Linked DNA regions of Homo sapiens. The protein of the gene in region 1 interacts with the protein of each later gene in a biochemical or structural test. Each region holds a gene or a part of one and is shown on either strand. Other genes may lie near its edges.

Region 1 (8,517 bases):
AAAAACATTCTACCTGATGATGAGGTTGCTCGGTCTGTGCGCTGAGAAGAAGATTCCAAGTGGAGATATAGAGATATCCAGAGGGTCACTCTGAGACGATCTGGGGTCAGGAGGGAGGTGCAGCCCTCTCCTTACAATTCATCACCTGAACAAAGACACTCGACCTTCTGCAGAGGGTCAGGGCTATCCCCTGGTTGGTGACCTTTGCACAGCTCACTGTGGGACCTGAGAGCTGGCTAAAATCTCAGGGAAAGGAGCATAGCCCTAGGCCCCAGGCCCCAACCCTATTCTCAGTAGGTTATCTCAGATACTCTGCTTGTCCACAGAGCTAAGTCCAGTAGTAGCAAAGCCCCAAATCAAAGCCAGCAAGACCACAGTCACAGGAGATAAGGACTCTGTGAACCTGACCTGCTCCACAAATGACACTGGAATCTCCATCCGTTGGTTCTTCAAAAACCAGAGTCTCCCGTCCTCGGAGAGGATGAAGCTGTCCCAGGGCAACACCACCCTCAGCATAAACCCTGTCAAGAGGGAGGATGCTGGGACGTATTGGTGTGAGGTCTTCAACCCAATCAGTAAGAACCAAAGCGACCCCATCATGCTGAACGTAAACTGTAAGTGACTCCTCACCCCTTCCTATATGTCCCTCTAGGATTACTCTGTCAATGGTGTGCAAAATGGATAAAACTCACAGGAGGCAGAATATCAATGAAGAGACCATTATAGCAAACAGAATTGCAAAGTGGTTAAGAGCTCAGCTCAGGCCGGGCACAGTGGCTCACGCCTGTAATCCCAGCAGTTTGGGAGGCCAAGGCGGGCGGATCACGAGGGCAGGAGATCGAGACCATCCTGGCTAATATGGTGAAACCCCGTGTCTACTAAAAATACAAAAAAAAATTAGCCGGGCATGGTGGCGGGCGCCTGTAGTCCCAGCTACTCGGGAGGCTGAGGCGGGAGAATGGCGTGAACCTGGGAGGCGGAGCTTTCAGTGAGCCGAGATGGTGCCACTGCACTCCAGTCTAGGCAACAGAGCAAGACTCTGTCTCAAAAAAAAAAAAAAAAAAAGAGCTCAGGCTCTGAATCAAATATACATATACTTAGTTGGTTTTTTTTGGTTGGTTGGGTTTTTTTGTTTGTTTTGTTGTTTTGAGACAGGGTCTCACTCTGTCACCCAGGCTGGAGTGCTGTGGTGTGATCAAAGCTCACTCCCGCCTCAATCCCCTGGGTTCAAGCAATCCTGCCACCTCAGCCTCCAGAGTAGCTGGGACTACAGGTTGCACCACCATGCCTGGCTAAGTTTTTAAGTTTTTTTGTAGAGTTGGGGTTTCACTGTGTTGCCCAGGCTGGTCTCAATCTCCTGGTCTCAGCCTCGGCCTCCCAAAGTGCTGGGATTACAGGAATGAGCCACTCTGCCCACCCCGTATTTAACTATTCTAAGTACCTCTCATACAGATGGAAGCATGCAATATTTGTCCTTTTGTGTCTGGCTTACTTCATTTAGCACAATGTCTTCAAGCTCCATCTATGTTGTAGAATGTATCAGAATTTCATTCCTTTTGGAGACTGAATAATATTATGCTGTGTAGATAGATACATCACATTTTGCTTATCCACTCATCCATCTATGGACAGTTAGGTTGCTTCCACCTTTTGGCTATTATGAATAATGCTATTACAAACATGGGTATACAAATATCTGTTCAAATCCCTGCTTTCAGTTCTTTTAAATAGATACTCAGAAGTGGAATTGCTGGATCAAATGGTAATCCTGTTTAATTTTGAAGAACCATCATACCATTTTCCACAGTGGCTATACCATTTCACATTCCCACCAGCAATGCACTAGAGTTCCAATTTCTCTACATCTTCAAAAACATTTGTTGCTTTCTGGTTTTGTTTTGTTTTTTATAATGGCCATCCTAATGGTTATAAGGTGGTATATCATTGGAGTTTTGATTTGCACTTCCCTAATGATTAGCAATATTTAGCATCTTTTCATGTGCTTATTTGCCATTTATCTTCTTTGGAGAAATGTTTATTCAAGTCCTTTGCCCATGTTTTAATTAGGTTGTTTGGGGATTTTTGGTTGAGTTGCAGTAGTTCTTTATATATTTTGGATATTAATCCCTTATCAGATATATGATTCTCAAATATTTTCTCCCATTCTATAAGAAGTCTTTTCACTTTTGTGATAATGTGCTTTGATACACAAAAGCTTTTAATTTTCATTAAGTCCAATTTCTCTACTTCTTCTTTCGTTGCCTATGCTTTTAGTGTCATAGCCAAGAAATCATTGCCAAATTCAATGTTCCAAAGTTTTCACTCTATCTTCCAAGAGCTTTATAGTTTTAGCTCTTACATTTAGGTCTTTTATGCATTTTGAATTAATTTTTATATATGGTGTTACATAAAGGTTCAATTTCATTCTTTTGCATGGATATCCAGTTTCTTCAATGCCATTTGTTGAAAAGACTATCCTTTCCCCACTGAATGATCTTGGCACCCTTGTCAAAAAACATTTGGCTATGTATGCAAACATTTCTTTCTGGGCTCTATATTTTATTCCACTGGTTTCTATTTCTTTTTGCCAGTACCATACTGTTTTGATTACTGTAGCTTTTGGATTTTGTTTGTTTGTTTTATTGTTGTTGTTTGGGTTTTTTTGTTTTGTTTTGTTTTTTTGCTTTTCTTTGTAGAGATGGCGTTTCACCATGTTGCCAAGGCTGGTCTCAAACTCCTGAGCTCAAGCAATCCACCCGCCTCCACCTCCCAAAGTGCTAAGATTACAGGTGTGATGATTACCATAGCTTTGTAAAAAATTTTGAAACCAGGAAGTGTGAGCCCTTCAACTTTGTTCTTTTTCAAGATTGCTTTGGCTATCCATGGTCCCTTCAGAGTCTATATAAATTTTAGAATGAATTTTTCTATTTCTGCAAAAAATATTACTGGAATTTTGATAGAGATTGCACTGAATCTGTAGATCACTTTGGGTAGTACTGTCATCTTAACAATATTAAGTCTTCTAATCCATGAAAATGGGGTGTCTTTTCAATTTATGTCTTATTTAATTTCTTTTGGCAATGTTTTGTATTTTCAGGGTACAAATCTTTCACCTCTTTGGTTAAGTTTATTTCTAAGTATTTTTAAAGCTCTTATAAATAGAATTTTTTTCTTAATTTTCCTTTGAATTGTTATTAGTATACAAAAATACAACTGATTTTTGCATGTGGATTTTGTATCCTGCCACTTTGCTAAATTTATTATTCTAACAGTTTTTTTGTGGAATCTCTAGGGTTTTCTATATATAAGTTAGTGTATTCTGCAAACAGGTATAATTTTACTTCTTTCCAATCTAGATGCTTTTTTTTTCTTGCCTAATTGTTCTGTCTAGGTCTTCCAATACTACATTGAATAGAAATGGCAAAAGCAGGCATCCTTGTCTTGTTCTTGATCTTAAAGGAAAAGTTTTCAATCTTTCACCATTGACTATGATGGTAGCTGGGGGTTTTCACATGTAGCATTTATTATGTTGAGAATTTCCTTCTATTCCTAGTTTCAGTGTTTTTTAGCATGAAAGAATGTTGAATTTTGTCAAATGCTTTTATCGACTCATTTTCATTACTGGTTATAGGTCTATTCAGATTTTCTATTTATTCATGATTCTATCATGGCAGGTTTTGTGTTTCTAGGAATTTGTTCATTTCATCCAGGTTATCCAATTTGTTGGCATTCAATTACTCATAGTACTCTTATAATCCTTATTATTTCTGCAGAATTAGTAGTAATGTTTTACTTTCATTTCTGACTTTAGTAATTTGAATCTTCTTTCTTTCTTAGTCAATCTAATTAACAGTTGTCAATTATAGTGATCTTTTTTGAAGAACAACTTTTTTTTTTCGGTTTGAGACAGGTTCTCACTCTGTCACCGAGGCTGATCATGGCTCACCACAGCCTCAACTTCCCGGGTTCAAGCAATCCTCCTGCTTCAGCCTCCTGGGTAGCTGAAACTACAGACAAGCACTACCACCTCCGGCTAATTTTTGTAATTTTTTGTAGAGACAGGGTTTCACCATCTTGCCCAGCTGGTCTCAAATTCCTGAGCTCAAGTGATACACCTGCCTCAGCCTCCCAAATTGCTGGGATTACAGTCATACACCACTGTACCTGGCCTACAGTTATAAATTTCTTTCTTGCACAAGATTCTTAACTACTCTGAGCCTCGGATTCCTCAACCGAAAATTGCACTGTGAATGCCTGCTCCATAGTATTGCACGGGTTTGGGGTTTTTGTTTTGTTTTTGAGACAGGGTGTCACTCTGTCACCCAGACTGGAGTGCAGTGGTGCAAACACAGCTCACTGCAGCCTCAACCTCCTGGGCTCAAGCAATTCCCTCACCTTAGCCTCCTAAGTAGTACATACTACCACATCTGGCTAATTTATTTTTATTTTTGTTTTCAGAGAGACAGAATCTCACCATGTTACCCAGGCTGGACTCGAACTCCTGGGCTCAAGCAATCCTCCCATCTGTTTCCCAAAGTGCTGAGATTACAGGTGTGAGCCACCACGCCTGGCCCCATAGTGTTATTTTAAAGATTTAATGTAATAATAAACCTTCAGCAAAACACCACACACAGAGGAAATGTTTCATAAATGTTAGCTGCTATTACTACTACTATTATCATTAGCCTTGAAATCAGGTAGTCCTAGGGTCAAATCTCAGATCCACCTCTCACTAGCCATCTGACTTTAGGTAAGCCTTTTACCACTCTAAGCTTCCATTTTTTCATGTTTAAAATGGAAATAATGTCTACCTGACAGCACTATTTTATGGATCAAATAAGATACATGTAAAGCATTTAGCAGCACAGGGCCTGGCACACAGGAAGTACTCCACAAAAGTAGCTAACATAGCATTAGTCACCAGCCTGAGTTGACTGGTGAGGGTTAAGCCCCAAATAGTTGCAACAGATATAAACAAGAAATAGGCTAGACACAGTGGCTCACACCTGTAATCCCAACATTTGGGAGGCCGAGGCTGGAGGATCTCTTGAGCCCAGGAATCCAAGACCAGCCTAGGCAATATAGTGGAACCCTATCTCTACAAAAATTATTTTTTTTTAATTAGCCAGGTGGGTGGGCGTGGTGGCTCACGCCTGTAATCCCAACACTTTGGGAGGTTGAGGCAGGCGGGTCACCTGAGGTCGGGAGTTCAAGACCAGCCTGACCAGGATGGAGAAACCCCGTCTCTACTAAAAATACAAAATTAGCCAGGCGTGGTGGCGCATGCCTGTAATCCCAGCAATTCAGGAGGCTGAGGTAGGAGAATCGCTTGAACCTGGGAGGCAGAGGTTGCAGTGAGCCGAGATCACGCCATTGCACTCTAGCCTAGGCAACAAGAGCAAAACTCGGTCTCAAAAAAAAAAAAAAGAAAGAAAAAAATTAGCCAGGTGTGGTGGCATGTGCTTATAGTCTCAGCTACTGAGGAGACTGAGGTGGGAGGATCACTTGATCCCAAGAGGCTACAATGAGCCATGATTGTGCCACTGCACTCCAGCCTGGGTGATAGAGTGAGAACCTGCCTCAAAAAAAAAAAAAAAAAAAAAGAAGAAGAAGAAATAGATGCAAAAGGTATTATTTATATATTATATATATATATATATATATATATGGAGGGAGAAGCATTATACAAGAAACCCACTGGGACATGGCTATGATCAAATATGGGAAAGGGGGAAAAAAGGAGGTAAAGCAAAGTCTCAAGCCTGGTATGTTAGTTTCCATCTACTGAGATACAGTGAAGATGGGATTAAACATACGAGATAATTTATTGGGGAAAATGCCTGTGAGGGAAAGTAAGGCGAGAGTGAGAGGAACCTCAGACCATGATGCAGATCTGATTCCTGTGGAAGAGAAAGAGAGGAAGGAAGTTTTAGATTGAAGTGCAGTTTTTGTTTGTTTGTTTTTTGAGACAGAGTCTCACTCTGTTGCCCAGGCTTGAGTGCAGTAGTGTGATCTCGGCTCACTGAAACCTCTGCCCCCCGGGTTCAAGCGATTCTCCTGCCTCAGCCTCTCAAGTAGCTGGGATTATAGGCACCTGCCACCGCACCCAGCTAAATTTTGTATTTTTAGTAGAGATAGGGTTTCACCATCTTGGCCAGGCTGGTCTTGAACTCCTGACCTCGTGATCCACCCGCCTCAGCCTCCCAAAGTTCTGGGATTACAGGCGTCAGCCACCGCGCCCGGCCTGCAGTGCAGTTCTAAGAGCATTTCTGCAAGGCTGACAGGGAGTCCTCCAGCCATTCACACTTCAGAATAAAACAGTCACACAAAACTGGGCTAGCTTTCATACCCCTGCTGGGAGCCTGTGGGAAGCCAGTTCTCTATGCAAAAGAGGTGGTGAATTCAGAATGCACCAACTGCCACAACTGAGACACTGAGAAAAAGATGCAACCACGAAAAAGGTGGAAAGTTCTAATCACATACAAAATAGCAATCAGCCTTTCTCATATTTCAAAGCCTTAAAAATGGCTGAGCGCAGAAAAGCCAGGGTGGAATTGGCAGAAGAGAGATCATCAACCTAGAAACATGGTGACTGGGGTTGGGCGCAGTGGCTCACGCCTATAATCCAAGCACTTTGGGAGGCCGAGGCAGGCGGATCATGAGGTCAGGAGTTCAAGACCAGTCTGACCAATATGGTGAAACCCCGTCTCTACTAAAAAAATACAGAAATTAGCCAGGTGTGGTGGCACGTGCCTGTAGTCCAGCCTGAGGCAGGAGAATCGCTTGAACCTGGGAGGCGGAGGTTGCAGTGAGCCAAGATCATGCTACTGCACTCCAGCCTGAGAGACAGAGCAAGACTCTGTCTCAAAAAAAAAAAAGAAAAGAAAAAAAGAAACATGGTGATTGAAAAAAAAAAATTGCAAGGATATAGTTAGCTAATCACCTTCCAGCAACCTTCCCACAACGAAACTGTATTCCTTGAAGGAACAATTAGAAACTACTTCATTCTGAGAGTTGTTTCCCAGCCCCCATTGTAAAATAATTTCACTTTCATTTCTTCTCCTCTTTTCTCTCCATGACAGATAATGCTCTACCACAAGAAAATGGCCTCTCACCTGGGGCCATTGCTGGCATTGTGATTGGAGTAGTGGCCCTGGTTGCTCTGATAGCAGTAGCCCTGGCATGTTTTCTGCATTTCGGGAAGACCGGCAGGTATGATGGCCTTTCCTCTTGTTCTGTTTCCTCCAAGGCTGACTGCCATGCTTGGGAGAGGGAAAGAATTCTTTGCCTGTCTCTGGGCCTGGATCTCATACTCCTCCCACTAAACTCCTGCTTCTCGGCACTAATTCCCACAGGTTTCCTCTTCCCTGGTCTTCGTGCTCCCTGTCTCCCATTATCTCTTGGACATGGGTATTCCAATCCCCATCTAATCTAGAGGAAGAGACTCAAGTATGTTCCTCTGTCCCCTAGTCAGGGAAAGCAAGGTCTAAGAAGGAAAACAAATGAAAAAATGAAAGAAGCAGCAGGAGAAAGCAAGTCATGTGCTCTGTTGACCACATTGGAAGAGGAGGGAGAAATAGCATAGGAAGAGAACCTAAGAGAAAGCAAAAACAACCAAAGTCCTCTTGAACAATAAATAGAGAAAAAAAAAAAAGTATCTACCCCGGAAAACAAAATGGGAAAGGTTTTAAGGATAGAAGTAGGCACAGAAGCAGCTGATAAAGAATGAAATGAAATGTGAACATCCAGCAAACAGGAAAAGAGTAAACACTAGAAGGGATTGTAGTTAGACTGAAGAACGAGGCCCTCAGAAGAAAGGCAGTATGAACATCAAGGACTCTAAGGAATTACCTGCTCACAGTGTCCTTCCTAACTTACGGAACAAAGATCCTGTGCTTGGGAATAGCAGTCACAGTTTCTGATATTTATTTAGGGCAAGCGACCAGCGTGATCTCACAGAGCACAAACCCTCAGTCTCCAACCACAGTAAGTAAAGCCACTTACCCCAGTGAGAACTGGTATGTTCCACCACGTGCCCTCCCCTGGCAGGGAATCCTGGATTCCCAAACCACTCCCTCCCTTCTGAATTTTCACAGAAAGGATCTCTATTTCCCAACCCTAAGGTGGCATAGGTCTTCCCACCCTTCCTAGCCACAGGAGTCCCCTGAGACACATCTGAGGAGAGAGGCTCACTCTGCCTAGGCCAGGCAGGCCTGAGGAAGATCCCATGTTTCCAGGAGCCATTTCCTCAGCCTTACTCCTTCCGCCTCCTGCCTCTATTACGGATGTGGGCACTCTCCCTTGGTGAGACTTTCCTTATCTTGTGGGTGCTGTGGGTGCTACAAGTCTCAATGCCCCTCCTTGCCACTGGAGCATGTTGCTGAGAAACACATCTGGGCAAAAATCAAGGCCTTGTGAACTGGTAGAACTCTTCACAAGTGGATTGTGGCCTCCTGTGGTTCTGCCCCTGCCCCCTCTCTGGTACTAACATGCTGGGTCTGGACCATACACTCTGAG
Region 2 (7,853 bases), on another chromosome or scaffold:
GAAGGTGGAGGAGACACAGCCAGGGACAGGATGGTGTACTGCTCTGTTGTGGTGGGGGAGAAAGGGAGGCCAGCAGAGACCTGTCCTTTTCTGGCTGAATAAGACTTTTGCCAGTTCTAGTTCCATTATCTCTGAGAACTATTTGTTAAGCTTATTCAGACTGCAATGAACTATATTCTTTACTCAGAGGGACAACGATTATCTCAAAGTAAGTCATAAAAGCTGCAGAAAAAAATTAATTTAAATTAATGTTAGTTTTAAAATTCAATATATTCCACACGGCACTTCTAGCAGGTAGTAGAGAAGGGTTTTAAATAAAGTAATAGAAGTTGGGTTTTGCAGTTCCTAGATGGTGGAAGATCACGGAATGAATATCTACCCTTGCATAAGCCTTTCTTCCTCTTGCCCTCCCTGCCATTGTTAGGGCTACTTGTAGCCCCTAAATTTTCCAGAAACTGAAAGTGAGATGAGATGGGCTCCTTTTCCAGCTCCATCACTCCCTGAGTCTCTGAGAAGCTTGAGAATGAGAGCCTGGTCTGTAGCTGTCCAGTAAACATCTGCTAGCTTATCTGCCCCTAAATGTGCCCAAAGGGAGGAGGGCCAGATGTGTTAATGAACATTTACTTGTTCTTCTTTATATGAATACAAGCTCTTGGTCCCTCCTTTCTTATTCAAGGAAGGAGATTGTACAGCAGACCTCACGAACTATCTGCAGTCTCATATGGTATCCATCTGTGCCTAAGGAAGACTGCTTGTGATTAAGACTTTTGACCTAAATAGTAGGTCTCTGCCCATGTCTGCAGTATAATCATCTTTCCTCGTTTGGCATTTTGAATGTGTAGCTTTTTTTGTTTTTTTTGCATGACATTTTTTTTGACGTTACATTGGATGTGTAGTTAACTTTTCCTGGTTGGTTGTACTCGTAGGATCTCTATGACGCTGGAGTGAAGAGGAAAGGAACTGATGTTCCCAAGTGGATCAGCATCATGACCGAGCGGAGCGTGCCCCACCTCCAGAAAGGTGGGCACTGTGCTGAGGGAGTCTCAGTGCCTTGGGGCCCTGGCTGGGGCGGCTGGGTGGATGTCCATGTTGGGATGGAGTCTGCCAGAATGAGGTTCTGTCTCCGCTTGGCACTCTCATAGGCTCACCCATTTTCCCTCACCTTTCTCTCCCATTCTGGATTCTTTTCTCTTGCAAATAGTTTCTGCATTTGGTGCTTTATTCTGCAGCTCCTTCTTGTTTGATGATCATTTGGTCTTGCCATTATTTGTTGAAGTAGTGGACTTTGGTGCATGCTCTGTACTGTTTCCTATGGTTTTCGGATGGAATGGGTTCCACTCAGGGGAGATAGAGATGGTCCAAATATGTGGCCTGGGCAGTGCCATTCAGGACAGGTGGTATGGCTGTTCCACGACAAACTTGGCCAATGTTGGCTCTGGTCACCGTGGTAACCTCTAAGCTCCTAGGATGCTGTGATCATCCTCAATTTTTAAAAAAATTATGGTGCATAAAACTAGGTGGGTGATCGTTGACAGCTTTGACTAGTGGCTCGGATCTGATAACTCTTTGTTGTTTTTCCTCAGTATTTGATAGGTACAAGAGTTACAGCCCTTATGACATGTTGGAAAGCATCAGGAAAGAGGTTAAAGGAGACCTGGAAAATGCTTTCCTGAACCTGGGTAAGTGAATGTGGCCCCCATTCCTGGTAGACATCAGCTACCAGAGCAGAAGTGACAGATGGCCATCCTGTTAATCCAAATGTGTTTGGGAGGTGTGGCTTCTATGCATGCTTTGGATAGTTTTACAGTCTTAATTGTATAGATTTCAGAATATAAAACTGAAGAAAGGCCTAACTTGGTAACAGATTGTTGCCAGGGAGGAGTAAGAGAACAGGAGGAGAGAGGGGTGTGTTGTGGAAACTCACGTATGCACTTGGGTTCTGCAGGCCTCAGAGACCCCTGGTTTAAAACCGTGGTGGAACTTAGTATTGCAGAGGATTTCTAGATTTCCCTTAGCCTGTCCTATTTTGCAGCCCTTTTCCATTGCATTAGGTCACTTCTGGTTTGTGGCCCAGGGCCAGGGCATCCTCTCTCATTGGTAGAGGAGAGACCAGAGCAGCTGCAGCGCTGACTCCCTTTCTTCTCTCCACAGTTCAGTGCATTCAGAACAAGCCCCTGTATTTTGCTGATCGGCTGTATGACTCCATGAAGGTAAGGGCAGCTGGCTGAGAGAGCTGTGTTTCCACACTCAGCTTTTCTTCTTTTGGGTCCCAAATTGAGTCTCCTTGATTCATGGATGGAGGAAGGGGACCCCACTGTGTGGATGCAGGAACACACTAGTCAGCTGTGGTTGTATGTGACAGCTGAGAGAACCACAAATCTGTCTTCTTTCTCTCAGCTGCTTGAACATGTATTTGCGTACAGACAAAAAGTAAAGTGCCATGGGAGAGAGAAAATGCGACATGGTAGTCGTGTCTGATCCCTGCTTAGGTTTCTCCGTGATTTCTTCCTGTTACTGCCAGAGTCAAGACAAGCGAGGAAGGGAGCGATTATTAAGCACCCACTATACAGTGGACAAGTGCTACTATTTTACCTTAAATCATTGCATAACAACCTCTGAGGCTTATGATTATCTTCTTTATAAATGCAGAGATGGAGCTCAGAATACCTCAGCCTGCTTGAAGTTACACAGACAGATTTGAACCTGGGTCTATCAGACCCCAAAGACAGCCCCACAACCCTTCCCTAAACGAACCACCTCTTCCCGTAGACCCATCCCATTTTCTACACCTCAAGTGTGCCATGTGTTTTCTGGCTTCTAGGCTTTTGCATTTTCCTTCTGGAACATCTCCCTTGTCTGTGCTGCCTCTGCCATCTGTCTTTGAGTTCCATATCAAATAGCACCCCTTGGTGCCTTCGCTCTGATGCTCTGGAAGTAAACTCAGTGGTCTTTATTGCACATATCATTAGAAATGGCACAGAGCGATGATAGAAATGTGTTGGCATGTTCCCTCTAAGCCTGCAAGAGTCAGGAACCTCTTGTTACATATGGAGACTCAGACTGCTTGAACTGAGCCTTGCAGTAGTAGGTGCTCAGTATATATTTATTGAATGGTGGCATAGAGTGGGAGTCTGTGCTGACTACAGCCTGGTGTGTTTGGAATTCCCAGATGCTCTTCTTTCTTTTCTTTTCTTGTCTTGTCTTTTTTTTTCTTTCTTTTTTCCTCCCTCCCTCCCTGCCTTCCCCTGCCTCCCTGCCTTCCCCTCCCTCCCTGCCTTCCCCTCCCTCCCTGCCTTCCCCTCCCTCCCTGCCTTCCCCTCCCTCCCTGCCTTCCCCTGCCTCCCTGCCTTCCCCTCCCTCCCTGCCTTCCCCTGCCTCCCTGCCTTCCCCTCCCTCCCTGCCTTCCCCTGCCTCCCTGCCTTCCCCTCCCTCCCTGCCTTCCCCTGCCTCCCTGCCTTCCCCTGCCTCCCTGCCTTCCCCTGCCTCCCTGCCTTCCCCTGCCTCCCTGCCTTCTCCTGCCTCCTTGCCTTCCCCTGCCTCCCTGCCTTCACCTCCCTCCCTTTCCTTCCCCTCCCTCCCTTTCCTTCCTTTCCCTTTCCCTTTCTTCTCTCTTTCTCTCTCCTTCCTTCCTTCCCTTTTTCTTTCTTTCTCTCTTTCTTTCTCTCTCTCTCTCTGTCTTTCCCTCTCTCTCTCTGTCTTTCCTTTCTTATAGGTTTTTGGGAAACAAGTAGTGTTCGGTTACATGAATAAGTTCTTTCGTGGTGATTTTTGAGATTTTGGTGTACTTATCACCCAGGCAGTGTACACTGTGCCCTAATATCCCTTATCCAAAATGCTTGGGACCAGGAATGTTTTATATCTCAGATTTATTTTTGATTTTGTAATATTTGCATATATATGATGAAATATTTTAGGGATGGGACCCAAGTCTAAACTTGAGATTCATTTATGTTTTATATAGACCTTACACACATAGCCTAAAGGTAATTTTATACAACGCTTTTGATAATTTTGTGCATGAAACAGTTTGTGTTAAGTGCTGTATGTGGAATTTTTCATTGTGGCATCATGTCGGCACTGAAAAAGTTTTGGATTTTGGAGCATTTTAGATTTCAGATTTTCAGATCAGGGATGCTCAACCTGTAGACGCTTTCTTTAACGATAACATTCTCAGCGAATGTAACAAATATCAACTTGATTTTCAGGGCAAGGGGACGCGAGATAAGGTCCTGATCAGAATCATGGTCTCCCGCAGTGAAGTGGACATGTTGAAAATTAGGTCTGAATTCAAGAGAAAGTACGGCAAGTCCCTGTACTATTATATCCAGGTAAGCCCGAGGTGCAGTGTCAGCCTGCCCTGCCGTCCAGAGCACCCCGGGCCCTGGCAGGTGGCCTGGCAGAATGATGACAGAGTGGCGATTTTCTGTTTTCTGACTCTCTGGGGAAGAGATGCTAGTCATCAACTATCAGGGATTTATTTTGAAAGCACCATTTGTGATTTGTCCTGGACTTTGTACAATCAGGCAGATGTTTTATATTTTTCACATCTGTTACTCTACAATGATCATCGGTGTTCATGACGATGATCCTGCAAGGCTTGCTGACATCCCGAAGAGGCTTGGAAGATCAGTTACATTTTACTTTTTTTTTTTTTTTTGAGACGGAGTCTTGCTCTCTCGCCCAGGCTGGAGTGCAGTGGCCACAATCTCGGCTCACTGCAACCTCCGACTTCTGGGTTCACACCATTTTCCTGCCTCAGCCTCCCAAGTAGCTAGGACTACAGGCGCCCGCCACCACACCCGGCTAATTTTTTTGTATTTTTAGTAGAGACAGGGTTTCACCGTGTTAGCCAGGATGGTCTCGATCTCCTGACCTCGTGATCCGCCCGCCTCGGCCTCCCAAAGTGCTGGGATGACAGGCGTGAGCCACTGCGCCCGGCCACATTTTACTTTTATTATGCATTGGTTCCTTGAAAAATCCTCTGGGATAGGCCTAACAACTTTCAGTTATTCAGAACTCCCATCTCTCCAATCAGTTTAGCATCTGTCTGTTTTGATGTGATGTCGCATTTGCAGTAAGGAAGTGATGGCATTCACAGTGGTACCACTGTGTAGATTTCAGACAGCCCTTGCAATTCCCCTTTCTAGAAGTTCCTCAGATGTCCAAAGGCATGCCCATGGTTAGCAAGGATAAAGTTAGAGCTGGATTTTTTGTAGCCAGGTTTATTAGGGCACATGTTTAAAGTCAAAGGACCAGTTAGACTCTTAGTAATTGTTCCTCACCTCACCAGCTTATTTCCACTTGACCTTAATAATGCAGGAAATAGGAGAGTGAGCTAGGAAAGTACCCTGTTTTCTGTGGAAAGACGAGGACGAGAGAGGAAAGTTAGGGTGTTTGTAGGACCTTGCTGCAGTAAGAACAGCCCTGGTCACTAACCTATGTCAATCCTCAGCACCTTGCACTCCCTCCACCCCACAGTCCTAAGGAGCCTTGAGTGTCTTCCCCAGCACCTCCTCCGACCACACTCCTGGAGGCTTCCCTGGCAATGGTTTGGGTGTGGCCTTCCAGGCCTTTGTATCAGGGCAGGTCTCCTGCAGAGTCTTCTCTTTGTCATGGGAGAAGCTTCATTGTGCGTTGAGGCTACTTCTGTGTTATTGAGGAGTCTGGGCTTTTTTCTGATACCACGTTTCTTTTCTTTCCTGGGCCATTGTAGCAAGACACTAAGGGCGACTACCAGAAAGCGCTGCTGTACCTGTGTGGTGGAGATGACTGAAGCCCGACACGGCCTGAGCGTCCAGAAATGGTGCTCACCATGCTTCCAGCTAACAGGTCTAGAAAACCAGCTTGCGAATAACAGTCCCCGTGGCCATCCCTGTGAGGGTGACGTTAGCATTACCCCCAACCTCATTTTAGTTGCCTAAGCATTGCCTGGCCTTCCTGTCTAGTCTCTCCTGTAAGCCAAAGAAATGAACATTCCAAGGAGTTGGAAGTGAAGTCTATGATGTGAAACACTTTGCCTCCTGTGTACTGTGTCATAAACAGATGAATAAACTGAATTTGTACTTTAGAAACACGTACTTTGTGGCCCTGCTTTCAACTGAATTGTTTGAAAATTAAACGTGCTTGGGGTTCAGCTGGTGAGGCTGTCCCTGTAGGAAGAAAGCTCTGGGACTGAGCTGTACAGTATGGTTGCCCCTATCCAAGTGTCGCTATTTAAGTTAAATTTAAATGAAATAAAATAAAATAAAATCAGTTCCTGAGTCACACAATCCACATTTCGAATGCTCAGCTTTCACATGTGGTCAGCAGCTAGTATATCTGGACAGCGCAGGCAGGGAACATTTCGATAGAAAGTTCTGTTGGGCAGCAGTACATGCCCAGGGCATGAGAGGACCTATGGGGGAGAAAAAGGGTCCCAGAGGGACCCCTTATCTGCTTATCTTTCTACAGGTTAATTAGGTGAAAATAAGCATCAGGGGCAGCCACAAACTGGAGAGAGCAGTGGGGCAGGGTGGGGCAGGCTACAGCATTCTGGCAAAGGAGATCCAACACAAGCCGATGGGAAGCACGGAGAAGGGATTTCTTTTGACTGGGAGGATTGAGAAAGATGATAGAGAAAAGGAACAATTTGAGCTGCACACTAAAATCTAAGGTGAGGTTTTACAGCTGGGAGAAAGCACTCCATGCAGGTTCTTAAGGGTCTGGGAATGAATGACAGGTCGCTGATACAATGGTACACATGTCAAAAAGTTCAGAGACTTCTTTCTGTACAGGGAAAGTTATGTCTCTCCCTTACTAGCCAGTGGCCTTCCCTGGAGTCGCCTGGTTTCCAGTACATTTTCATGGATAGACTGCATACGCATGTATATATATGTATCTATCTGTGTTCATAAATGTGAAGGTGCTGTCCCCAGGCTGCTGGTACTGGGTTCTGCAGATTCCTTTTTATACAAGTGCTCCCCATAAGCAGGGTAGAGGGCTGGGAGTGAGGGGAAGTTGACTACTCCTCCTAACCCTTCTCCTTAGTGGAGGGTGTGTCAACTACTCATTTTTGGCACCTGGCTGATGCAGGGCCCACTCAGTCATCTGCAGGGACTAGGTAGGTAATGGAAATGAATGTATGAAATGGGCAGGTTGGACAGAAGTGGGGAATCTGGGGAAAATGGGGAATGCCTGCCTTGCTTGAGGCATTCAAATTCAATTCAAACAACAGTCGTAACAACATGGCATTGACCAAACCAAATACATCCGTGAGCTGATTGGCTGCTATTTTGGCCCTTTGGCAAACTTTAGATGGAAATTTGGATCGAGCATGGCTCTTGGGTCACTAGTGGCCCATAACGTATGTGAAAGGCCCCTGAGATAGTCCTTAAAAAGCAGGTTATGCAAAAATCAGGTATTTTATCAAATGTGTCCTGCCTATACATATTAAAATGGATGCCCCAAATCACAGAATATACTGTTCTGTGTGCTTGGGCAGAGTTCAAGGAACTGCCTAAGAAGCAGGACCTTTCTCATTAACCCCAAATTATACTGAACTCAGAATTGATAGGGCTGGGCAGAGACTGTCAGGAGCAGTGTTTCAGATCAGTGAACATTTAGGCATTGTTACCTCTCAATCATACGTGTGTTTCAGGCTGCAAAGGGAGCAGTGGTGTGGAGCAGACAAGGCCATGGGGTGAATATGGGGAAACTTACGCTCCCACTGTGCCCAGGACAGTCTGGCCACTGGTGTGGCCAACAGGTATGTGGGAAAGTTGAAAGGGCAGGCCAACATAGGAAAGGCGCTTGGAGAACTGTTTCAAACACTGTCTACTGTTTTTCCTCTATACAAAGCAATGGCAGTCCAGTGT

The links.
Region 2: the proteins of CEACAM1 (region 1) and ANXA2 form a complex in vitro, tested with the Homo sapiens proteins (one study listed by BioGRID).

Annotation. Positions count from the first base shown.
Region 1 is NC_000019.10:42,511,045-42,519,561, reverse strand, and holds part of CEACAM1 (cell adhesion molecule CEACAM1 isoform 1 precursor), read left to right. Parts: intron 1-326; coding exon 327-614; intron 615-4,458; coding exon of another isoform or gene 4,459-4,551; intron 4,552-7,082; coding exon 7,083-7,212; intron 7,213-7,933; coding exon 7,934-7,986; intron 7,987-8,517.
Region 2 is NC_000015.10:60,345,550-60,353,402, reverse strand, and holds the end of ANXA2 (annexin A2), read left to right. Parts: intron 1-926; coding exon 927-1,020; intron 1,021-1,583; coding exon 1,584-1,679; intron 1,680-2,151; coding exon 2,152-2,210; intron 2,211-4,205; coding exon 4,206-4,328; intron 4,329-5,713; coding exon 5,714-5,773; 3' UTR 5,774-6,252; downstream 6,253-7,853. UniProt on the Homo sapiens protein: Calcium-regulated membrane-binding protein whose affinity for calcium is greatly enhanced by anionic phospholipids. It binds two calcium ions with high affinity. May be involved in heat-stress response.